2 linked regions of the Homo sapiens genome follow. The protein of the gene in region 1 purifies or fractionates together with the protein of each later gene. This does not show direct contact. Each region holds a gene or a part of one and is shown in the gene's direction. Other genes may lie near its edges.

Region 1 (3,995 bases):
TCTTGACTCACTGCAGCCTTGAACTTCTAGTCTCAAGCAATCCTCCAGCATTGGGCTTCCAAAGTGCTGGGATTGCAGGTATGAGCCAGTGTACCTGGCCTAAATTTGCTGTTTTTAACACACATTGTGGGTTTGGAAACTATATAACCAAATTTGTTAAAACTATATTTAGAAAGAATTGCAAGTTGGTTTTGAATGAAGTAAGCAGGATTGCGTATATCTTTCTTAATTTCCCATTCAGTTTTTCCTTTCAAAATGGAAAAATAAGAATTATAGGCCCAGCACAGTGTCTCTTGCCTGTAATCCCAGCACTTTGGGAGGCTGAGGTGGGCAGATCACTTGAGCCTGGGAGTTCAAGACCAGCCTGGGCAACATAGTGAGTCCCCGTCTCTACAAAAAAAAAAAGAATTATAATAACTAGATACCATGTTGTAAACGAAGTTTCACCCAATATATTAACATTTTTAAGTGAAAATTATTTTGGCTACTTTTTTTTTCAGTTAAGATGAATTTACTTTTTCTTTTTGCTTTTTTTTTTTTTTTTTTTTTTTTTTGAGATGGAGTCTTGCTCTGTAGCTCAGGCTGGAGTGCAGTGGCGTGATCTTGGCTCACTGCAACCTCTGCCTCCCGGGTTCAAGCAGTTCCCCTGCTTCAGCCTCCTCAAGTAGCTAGGACTACAAGTGCGTGCCCCCATGCCTGGCTAATTTTTGTATTTTTAGTAGAGAAGGGATTTCACTGTGTTGGCCAGGGTGGTCTTGAACTCCTGACCTAGTGATCTGCCTGCCTCAGCCTCCCAAAGTCCTGGGATTACAGGTGTGAGCCACCATGCCCAGCTGAATTTACTTTTTCCTTTTTTTTTTTTTTTTTTTTTTGAGACGGAGTCTTGCTCTGTCACCCAGGCTGGAGTGCAATGGCGTGATCTCGGCTCACTGCAAGCCCCGCCTCCCGTGTCCATGCCATTCTCGTGCCTCAGCCTCCCGAGTAGCTGGGACTACAGGTGCCTGCCACCACGCCTGGCTAATTTTTTGTATTTTTAGTAGAGACAGGGTTTCACCGTATCAGCCAGGATGGTCTCGATCCCCTAACCTCGTGATCCACCCACCTCGGTCTCCTAAAGTGCTGGGATTACAGGTGTGAGCCACCGCACCTGGCCAATTTACTTTTTCTTTATAAATGGATGTTTTATTAGTACCATGTGAAACATTACATGAAGATAGCATTATTCTTGATGGCAGTGGCTTCTTTGCTGTCAATATCAAGTATACCTGGCAGTTGGTATTTAAAGCTCACCTCTGTTTATCATATACAACTTAAAATTTGTCCAAATGGAAATAAGTACTTTAAAGTTTCTTATGGATCACTCTGACATAAAACCTAAACGCACTTGGTTTTTATTAGACCTCTTTCTAGTAGTTTTCAGTTTTGTTTTTTTAGATGGGGCCTCACTGTATTGCCCAGGCTGGAGTGCAGTTGCTGATCTCGGCCCACTGCAACCTCCGCCTCCTAGGTTCAAGCGATTCTCCTGTCCCAGCCTCCCGAGTAGCTGGGATTACAGGCGTGCTCCACCATGTCCGGCTAATTTTTGTATTTTTTGTAGAGGCAGGGTTTCACCATATTGGCCAGACTGGTTTCAAACTCCTGACCTTGAGTGATCTGCCTGCCTCAGCCTCCCAAAGTGCTGAGATTACAGGCATGATCCACTGTGCCTGGCCAATAGTAGTTTGATTTTGAATAAGAACAGTTACATTTGACTATGATCCAAGAGTGTGAGTTGAATAACATTCAAAACCATTTTGCTTTTTTTTTGTTTTTTTTTGGTTATAGGATCTCACTTTGTCACCCAGGCTGGAGTGCAGTGGCACGATCATGGTTCGCCACCATAGCCAGCTAATTATTTTTTTTTTTATTTTATTTTTTTTGATGTTTTGTTGACATGGGGTCTCACTATGTGGCCCAGGCTGGTCCTGAACTCCTGAGCTCCAATGATCCTCCCACATTGTTGGGATCGGGCCTGGCCTCTCTTGCATTTAAAATGGATCTTAATTGTATAAAAATGGGCTTATTGGCTAGGCGTGGTAGCTCACGCCTGTAATCCCAGGACTTTGGGAGCCTGAGGCGGGTGGATCACCTGAGGTCAGGAGTTCGAGACCAGCCTGGCCAACATAGTGAAACCCTGTCTCTTCTAAAAATACCAAAATTAGCCGGGTGTAGTGGCGGGTACCTGTAATCCCAGCTACTCGGGAGGCTGAGGCAGGAGAATCACTTGAACCCGGTGGAGGTTGCAGTGAGCCCAGATCGTGCGATTGCACTCCAGCCAAAGTGATGGAGCGAGACTCCATCTCAAAAAAAAAAAAAAAGATATATTTAGAAGAAAGTGATCATAATTAACATTAAGTGATCTTAGACTTCATTTTACTAAACTGAGCTTTTGAAGAGGTTTGTACTCATGCGGTAAGATTGGATCAGGTACTTATAATGAATAATAATGGTATGATTTCTTTCAGATATGTTAATGAATACACCCAGGGCACACACGGTTGAAGAGGTTAATACTGATGAGGATCAAAAGGAGGAGTCAAATGGATTAAACGAAGACATTCTGGACAATCCATGTAATGATGCTATTGCCAATACTTTAAATGAAGAGGAAACACTGCTGGACCAGTCTTTTAAAAATGTGCAACAGCAACTTGATGCTACATCCAGAAATATTACTGAAGCTAGATAAGTTTCCATTAAGAGAAAATGTATCTGTTAAGTCATCGTCCTGCAAGCTTGGCGTTACTATGTATTTTTTCTTCTTGGAGTGAAAATCCTTAGATAGTAAAACTGTTATAGATTATTGTTTAAAATCTGATAATCTGGTATTTATTTATAATTATGCTTGTCACTTTAGTTAAATCTATTTGTTCTCTTTAGTGTTTGTTTTTATATAGGTATTTCTTCATAAAATGATTAGGAGGTAATAAGCAGTTTCTGCTGCTGGTCTGTCATTGAATGCCTTGTTTTCACTAAGTTGGGAGGTTTTGTTTCTGTTTTTTACTGCTCCTTGCAAAGCAGGGCTAATCCATGGACAGTGTGCCCAGAGTAGTCTAGTTGAAGTTTTTTGTTTTGTTTTGTTTTGTTTTTTTTGACACAGAGTCTCACTCTGTTGGCCAGGCTGGAGTGCAGTGGCACAGTCTTGGCTCACTGCAACCTCTGCCTCCTGGGCTCAAGCAATTCTCCTGCCTTAGCCTCCCGAGTAGCTGGGACTACAGGCGTGTGCCACCACGCTTGGCTAATTTTTGTACTTTTAGTAGAGATGAGGTTTCACCATGTTGGCCAGGCTGGTCTCAAACTCCTAACCTCAGGTAATCCGCCCCCCTCGGCCTCCCAAAGTGCTGGGATTACAGGTGTGAGCCACCGCGCCCAGCCTGGGTGAAGTTTTGAGATGTACATATATACTGAATATTAATGTCAATTTTTTAAAAGAAGTAAAAATTATCTTAAAAACTATCTACAGGCTTTATGGGAGGTTTTCATTGCTATATAGTTCTGCAGTTTACACTTTTGGTAAATACAAGATTTTTACATGTTTTCTAAGGAGTTACTTTAATAGTTAAAAGGTCACATGAAAGGCCGATACATTGCCTGGCCCTCATAGGTGCTAGGGTAGTTCAAAGAATGCTTTTTGGGAACTTACTGACTAGTTGGAGTGAAACTTGCAAAGTATCGTGGGGAACATAGCATCTCGGGAGGATTTACAGGAAAGACTTTGCTTTTGGTGGAGGAGATTCCAAGTATTGGGAAGCACATGTACAATAATGATACAGAAATAAGATTAAGGGGATAAGGCAGATTTTAGGAATGCTGATTTTGAGGTTAGATGTGTTAGGGCCAAATCGTGAGAACACCTGATTGGAGTTCTTCCTGCCAGGTAGAGGGGGTAGTTACAAATAAGAAAGGTTAGTGTTAGGAAAGGCTCTCCCACCCCACCCCCTCACCCCTACCCACAG
Region 2 (7,055 bases), on another chromosome or scaffold:
TGTCTCTATAGATTTACCTATTACAGGTTTTTCATATGAGTAGAATCATGCAATATGTGGCCTTCTGTCTTTCATGTGGTAATGGCAATACGTTTCAGAACTTCATTGTTACTTATGGTTAAATAATGTTCCATCATATGGGCACATATCCATTCATCAGCTGGTGGACATTTGGGTTTTCTTAACAATGTTTTATAGTTTTCAGAAATAGCATCAATGCAGAGTTTGAAGATATAATTCTGAAATGGCGTCTTTTTCATGGTTCTGTTTCTGGTCAAAGATTCCTAAGGTTTATTATTAAGTATGCTGAAATGTAAGCTCTCTGAGAACAGAGATTTTTGTTCACTTTATTGAATGATTCATTGTAAGTACCCAGACCAATGCCTATATCATAGGAGGCAATTAATATTTTAGCATTAATGAATGAATGGTCACAACAGTGATTTGTGTTGGGATGTGTACTGTTTTCGAATGGATGATATTCAGTGTGTGCAAGTTTTCTTAGAATTTTGTCAAATGATCATCTCTATGTTTGCAGATGGAGTGGTTTAATAATTATAAAAGATCTCTTGCTACTTATATGAGGTCACTGGGAGGAGATGAAGGTTTGGACATTACACAGGATATGAAACCACCAAAAAGCCTATATATTGAAGTATGTATATCTTTTTAAAATGCATTTTTCTTTAATGTGTAAATTGTGCTACCTTTTAAGAAGAGAGGAGTATATGAATATGTGTTAGCTTCTATTAAAATAGAAAAGAAGCATAGACCAAATCAAACAAGCTACCTGTAGGGGGATGACAGAATACGATGGAACAGCTATAATTTTCTGAATATACCTGTTTTAATAGTTTTGAGTATGGAACCCTATAAATGTTTTAGCTATTACTAAAACAAAGTTAAATCAAAATGGAAAATCAGTCCCTAAATTTTGAAAGTAAAATGAAACAAATGTCAAAACAAAGTTAAATCAAAATGGAAAATCAGTCCCTAAATTTTGAAAGTAAAATGAAACAAATGTCAAAACAAAGTTAAATCAAAATGGAAAATCAATGCTAAATTTTGAAAGTAAAAAAAGCAAATGTCTTTCAAGTTGGTGGATTAGTCAAAACAAGAGGTATTTTTGTTTCATTTTGTTTATTTTTTCTATTTTTTAAATAATAAAATACATATAAAATCTACCATCTTAGCTATTTTTAAATGTACATTTAAGTGGTATTAAATATTGTTTAACATTCCATATTGTTTTGCAACTTTCATATTGTTTTGCAGCTGTCACCACCATTCCATATCCAGATTTTTTTCATCTTATAAAACTGAAACTCTACCCATTAAACAATAACTTCTCAATACCCCTGCCTCCCATCCCCCAGCAACCACCATTCTACTGTCTGTCTCTGATTTTGACTACTGTAACTACCTCATGTGAGTGGAATCATATAGTATTTGTCTTTTTGTTTTCTTTTGTTCTCGTTAGAGAATAATTTCTGAGAAGCTACAAATGACAAGTTATTTGTCTTTTTGTGACTGGCTTATTTCACTTAGCGTAATATCTTCAGGGTTCATTTCTGTGGTATCTGTGGTAAGAATTTGTGTCAGAATTTCCGGCTGGGCACGGTGGCTCATGCTTGTAATCCTAGCGCTTTGGGAGGCTGAGGAAGGAGGATCACCTGAGGTCGGGAGTTCAAGACTAGCCTGACCAACATGGAGAAACCCCGTCTCTACTAAAAATACAAAATTAGCCGGGCACATGCCTGTAATCCCAGCTACTTGGGAGGCTGAGGCAGGATAATCGCTAGAACCGGGGAGAAGGAGGTTGCGGTGAGCTGAGATTGCACCATTGCACAATTTTTTTTTTCTTTTTTTTGAGATGGAGTTTCACTCTTGTTGCCCAGGCTGGAGTCTAGTGGTGCGATCTTGGCTCACCGCAACCTCCGCCTCCTGGGTTCAAGTGATTCTCTGGCCTCAGCCTCCCAAACAGCTGGGATTACAGGCATGTGCCACCACCCCTGGCTAATTTTGTATCTTTAGTAGAGACTGGGTTTCTCCATGTTGGTCAGGCTGGTCTCGAACTCCCGAGCTCAGGTGATCCTCCCTCCTCGGCCTCCCAAAGTGCTGCGATTACAGGTGTGAGCCACTGCGCCTGGCCCAGAATTTCCTTCCTTTTTAAGGATGAGTAATATTCCTTTTTCTGGCTATACCACATTTTGCTTATCCATTTATCCATCTATGGACACTGGGTTGCTTCTTTATTTTAGCTATCATTTTATGATCAATGCTGCTATGAACGTGGATATATAAATCTCTTTGAGACTCTGCTTTTAATTTTGGGGGGCATATATCCAGAGTGGAATTACTAGATCATATGGTAATACTATGTTTGAGGAATTGTCATACTGCTTTCCACAGCAGCCATACCATTTTACATTCCAACATTACGCAAGGGTTCCATTTTCTCCACATCCTCACCAACACTAAATATTTTGGGGTTATTTTGTTTCGTTTTTGAGACAGAGTTTTGCTCTTGTCACCCAGGCTGGATGCAGTGGCGCGATCTCGGCTCAACCTGCAACCTCCACCTCCCAGGTTCACCTCAACTGCAACCTCCACCTCCCAGGTTCAAGTGATTCTCCTGCCTCAGCCTCCCAAGTAGCTGGGATTACAGGTGCCCACCACCACACCTGGCTAATTTTTGTATTTTTAGTAGAGACACGGTTTCACCATTTTGGCCAGGCTGGTCTTGAACTCCTGACCTCAGGTGATCCTCCCGCCTCAGCCTCCCAAAGGCATGAGTCACCATGCCTGGCCTTGTTCTGTTTTTTAATCATAGCCATCCTAAAGGATGTAAAACGTGGTTTTGACTTTTATTTCCCTAATGATTAGTGATGTTGAGCATCTTTTCATATGCTTATTAGCTATTCCTGTGTCTTCTTTGGAGAAATGTTTATTCAAATAATTGGCCCCCTTTATGGGGCCCATTTTCAAATAGGGTTTTGTTGTTGTGGAGATTTAGAAATCCTTTATGTATTCAGTATGTTAATTTGTTATCAGATATATGATTTGCAAATATTTTCTCCCATTCTCTGGGTTGCCTTTTTATGCTGTTGATAGTGTCTTTTTTTTTCTTTTTTTTCTGTTTTCTTCCTTCAGTATCATGTTGATATTTTAAAATTTTCATGCAGCCCAGTTCGTCATTTTTTTTTTTTTTTTTTTGAGATGGAATTTTGCTCTTGTTGCCCAGGCTAGAATGCAGTGGTGTGATCTCGGCTCACTGCAACCCCTGCTTCCTGGGTTCAAGCGATTCTCCTGCCTCAGCCTCCTGAGTAGCTGGGATTACAGGCATGCACCACCACACCCAGCTAATTTTTTGTATTGTTAGCAGAGATAGGGTTTCATCATGTTGGCCAGGCTGGTCTTGAAATCCTGACTTCAGGTGATCCACCCACCTTGGCCTCCCAAAGTGCAGGGATTACAGGCGTGAGCCATCGCACCCGGCCAATTTTTTTTGTTTTGTTGGTTGTGCCTTAGGAGTCATATCCCAGAAATCATTGCTAAATACAATGTCATAAAACTTTTGACCTGTATTTCCTTCTAAGTATTATGTTGTTTTACATTTGCATTTCGGTCTTTGATCCATTTCAAGTTAATTTTTGTATGGTGTTAGGTGATGGTCCAACTTTATTTTTTTGCATGTGGAAATCTAGCTTTCCAAGCATAATTTCTTTTTTTTTTTTTTTTTTTTTTTTGAGACAGAGTCTCTGTCTGTCGCCCAGGCTGGAGTGCAGTGGCACAATCTCGGCTCACTGCAAGCTCTGCCTCCTGGGTTCACGCCATTCTCCTGCCTCAGCCTCCCGAGTAGCTGGGACCACAGGTGCCCACCACGACGCCCAGCTAATTTTTTGTATTTTTTAGTAGAGACGGGGTTTCACCGTGTTAGCCAGGATGGTCTGGATCTCCTAACCTTGTGATCCGCCCACCTCGGCCTCCCAAAGTGCTGGGATTACAGGTGTGAGCCACCGCACCCGGCCTCCAAGCATAATTTCTTAATAAGACTGCCCTTTCCCCATTGTGAATGGTTTTGACACTCTTGTCAAAAATCATTTGACTATGTAGGCAAGGGTTTATTTTTTATCTCTTTATCCTATTCCATTGTTCTGTACATCTGTCGTAAAAAAAGTTTTTTTAATATATATATACATCTGTCTTTATGCCAGAACTGTAGTATTTCGATTGTTGTAGCTTTGCAGTAAGTTTAAATTAGGGATTTTGGGTCCTCCACCTTCATTCCTCTCTCTTTTTTTTTTTTTTTTTTTTTTTTTTTTTTTTTTTTTGAAACGAAGTCTTGCTCTGTCGCCCAGGCTGGAGTACAGTGGTGCACTCTTGGCTCACTGCAACCTCCACCTCCTGGGTTCAAGTGATTCTCCTTTCTCAGCCTCCCAAGTAGCTGAGACTAAAGGCGCCTACCACCATGCCCGGCTAATTTTTTATAGTTTTAGTAGAGATGGGGTTTCACCATGTTGGCTAGGCTGGTCTCGAACTCCTGACCTCAGGTGATCCGCCCACCTCAGCCTCCCAGAGTGCCGGATTACAGGCATGAGCCACCACGCCCGGCCCCATTCCTCTTTTTAAAGGTTGTTTTCACTATTTGAGATTTTATATGGATTGTGGGATGGGTTTTTCTGTTTCTCCAAAAGACACTTTTGGGATTATAGTAGGGATTGTGTAGGTCACTTAGGGTGCATTGACATCTTAATATTAAATCTTCCAATCCATGAACATGGGATGTGTTTCCAATTGTTGATGTCATCTTTAATTTTCTTCAGCAGTGTTTTTTAGTTTTCATTGTTCAAATCTTTCTCCTCTTTCGTTAATTTAATTTCTATATATTTTATTCTTTTCGCACTGATAAACTGAATTATTTTCATAATTTTTATTTTCAGATTGTTCGTTGTTAGTGTATAGAAATGCAACTGATTTTTGTGTGTTGACTTTGCATCCTGTTACTGTGCTGAATTCATTTATTAGTTCTAAAAGTTTTTTGTGGAATCATTAAAATTTTCTACATGTAAGATCATATCATCTGCAAACAGATAATTTTAGTTTTTCCTTTTTAATTTAGAATCCTATTTCTTTTTCTTGTCTAATTACTCTGACTGTAACTCCAGTTTTATGTTGAATAGAAGTGGCAAAAGCAGAAATCTTTTGCCTTCTTAGTGAACTTAGAGGAAAAGCTTTCAGTCTTTCTTTTTCTTTTTGAGACAGAGTCTTGCTCTGTTGCCCAGGTTGGAGTGCAGTGGCACAATCTCAGCTCACTTCAACGTCCGCCTCCTAGGTTCAAGCGATTCTCCTGCCACAGCCTCCTAAGTAGCTAGGACTACAGGCACATGCCATCACGCCCAGCTAATTTTTGTATTTTTATTAGAGACAGGGTTTTACCATAGAGGCCAGGCTGGTTTTGAACTCCTGACCTCATCATCCACCCGCCTTGGCCTCCCAAAGTGCTGGGATTATAGGCGTGAGCCACCGTGCCTGGCCAGCTTTCAGTCTTTCACCATTGAATATGATGTTTGCTGTAGAGTTTCCATATATGGCTTTTATTATGTTGATGTATAGTTATCTTCTGTTCCTAGTTTGTTGAGTATTTTTATGAAAGGAAGTTGAATTTTGTCAAACGCTTTTTCTGTATCAATTGAAATGATCATGTTTTTTTCCCTTCGTTCTGTTAATGACTTATATTGATTGATTTTCATATCTTGAACTGTCCTTGCATTCCAAAAATAAATCTCAATTGATTTATGATGAACTCTTTTACTATGCTGCTGAATTTGATTTGATACTATTGTGGTGATAATTTTTTTAATTTTTATTTTTCAAGACGGAGTTTTGGTCTGGTTGCCCAGGCTGGAGTGCAATGGCACGATCTTGACTCACCGCAACCTCTGCCTCCTGGGTTCAAGCGATTCTCCTGCCTCAGCCTCCCAAGTAGCTGCGATTACAGGCATGTGCCACCACACCCGGCTAATTTTGTGTTTTTAGTAGAGATGGGGTTTCTCCATGTTGGTCAGGCTGGTCTCGAACTCCCGACCTCAGGTGATCCTCCCGCCTTGGCCTCCCAAAGTGCTGGGATTACAGGCGTGAGCCACCATGCCTGGCCTGTGTTGAGAATTTTTGCATCAGTGTTCATAAGGGACATTGGTCTATAGTTTTCTTGGAGTATCTTTTCTGGCTTTGGTATTAGGGTAATGCTGGCCTCATAAAATGAGTTAGGGAGGTGTTCCCTCCTTTTATATTTTTTAGAAAAGTTTGAGAAGGATTGGTGTTCTTGAAATGTTTGATAGAGTTACCCAGTGAAGCCATCAGCTCTAGGGTTTTCTTTATTGAGAGATTTTTGATTAGTGATTGAGTCCCCTTACTAGCTATAGGTCTATTCCAATTTACTAGTTCTTAATCATTCAGTCTTTGTAGGTTTGTGTTTCTGGGAATTTGTCCATTTCATCTAGGTTTTCCAATTTGTTGGTGTACAATTGTTCATAGGACTCTTAGAACTCTTTTTATTTCTGTAGGATTGGTAGTAATGTCCTCACTTTCATTTTTGATTTTAGTAATTTGAGCCTTCTTTTATTCTTAGTCTGTCTAGCTAAAGGTTTGTAAATTTTGTTGACCTTTTAAAATAACCAAATTTTAGTTTTATTGGTTTTCTCTATGAGTGTTTCTGTTCTTCATTTTATTAATGTCTGCTCTAATCATTATTTCCTCCTTCTAGCTTTAGGTTTAGCTTGCTTTTCTTTTTCTGGTTCCTTAAGATGTAAAGTTAGGTGGTTGGCTTGAAATTTGTCTTCTTTCGTTTTTGTTTTTGTTTCTTTTTTCTTTTTCTTTTTCTTTTTCCTTTTTTCTTTTTTCTTTTTTTTTTTTTGAGACAGGATCTCACTCTGTTACCCAGGCTGTAGTGCAGTGTCACAATCTCAGCTCACTTCATCCTCCGCCTCCAGGGTTCAAGTGATTCCCATGCCTCAGCCTCCCGAGTAGCTGGGACTGTAGGGGTGCGCCACCAC

The links. The genes of interacting proteins can lie anywhere in the genome.
Region 2: the proteins of TIPIN (region 1) and GINS1 purify together in Homo sapiens (affinity purification with mass spectrometry; 3 studies listed by BioGRID and IntAct, with this or other methods). This does not show direct contact.

The regions. Positions count from the first base shown.
Region 1 is NC_000015.10:66,335,691-66,339,685, reverse strand, and holds the end of TIPIN (TIMELESS-interacting protein), read left to right. Parts: intron 1-2,504; coding exon 2,505-2,728; 3' UTR 2,729-3,495; downstream 3,496-3,995.
Region 2 is NC_000020.11:25,424,673-25,431,727, forward strand, and holds part of GINS1 (DNA replication complex GINS protein PSF1), read left to right. Parts: intron 1-538; coding exon 539-655; intron 656-7,055. UniProt on the Homo sapiens protein: Required for correct functioning of the GINS complex, a complex that plays an essential role in the initiation of DNA replication, and progression of DNA replication forks.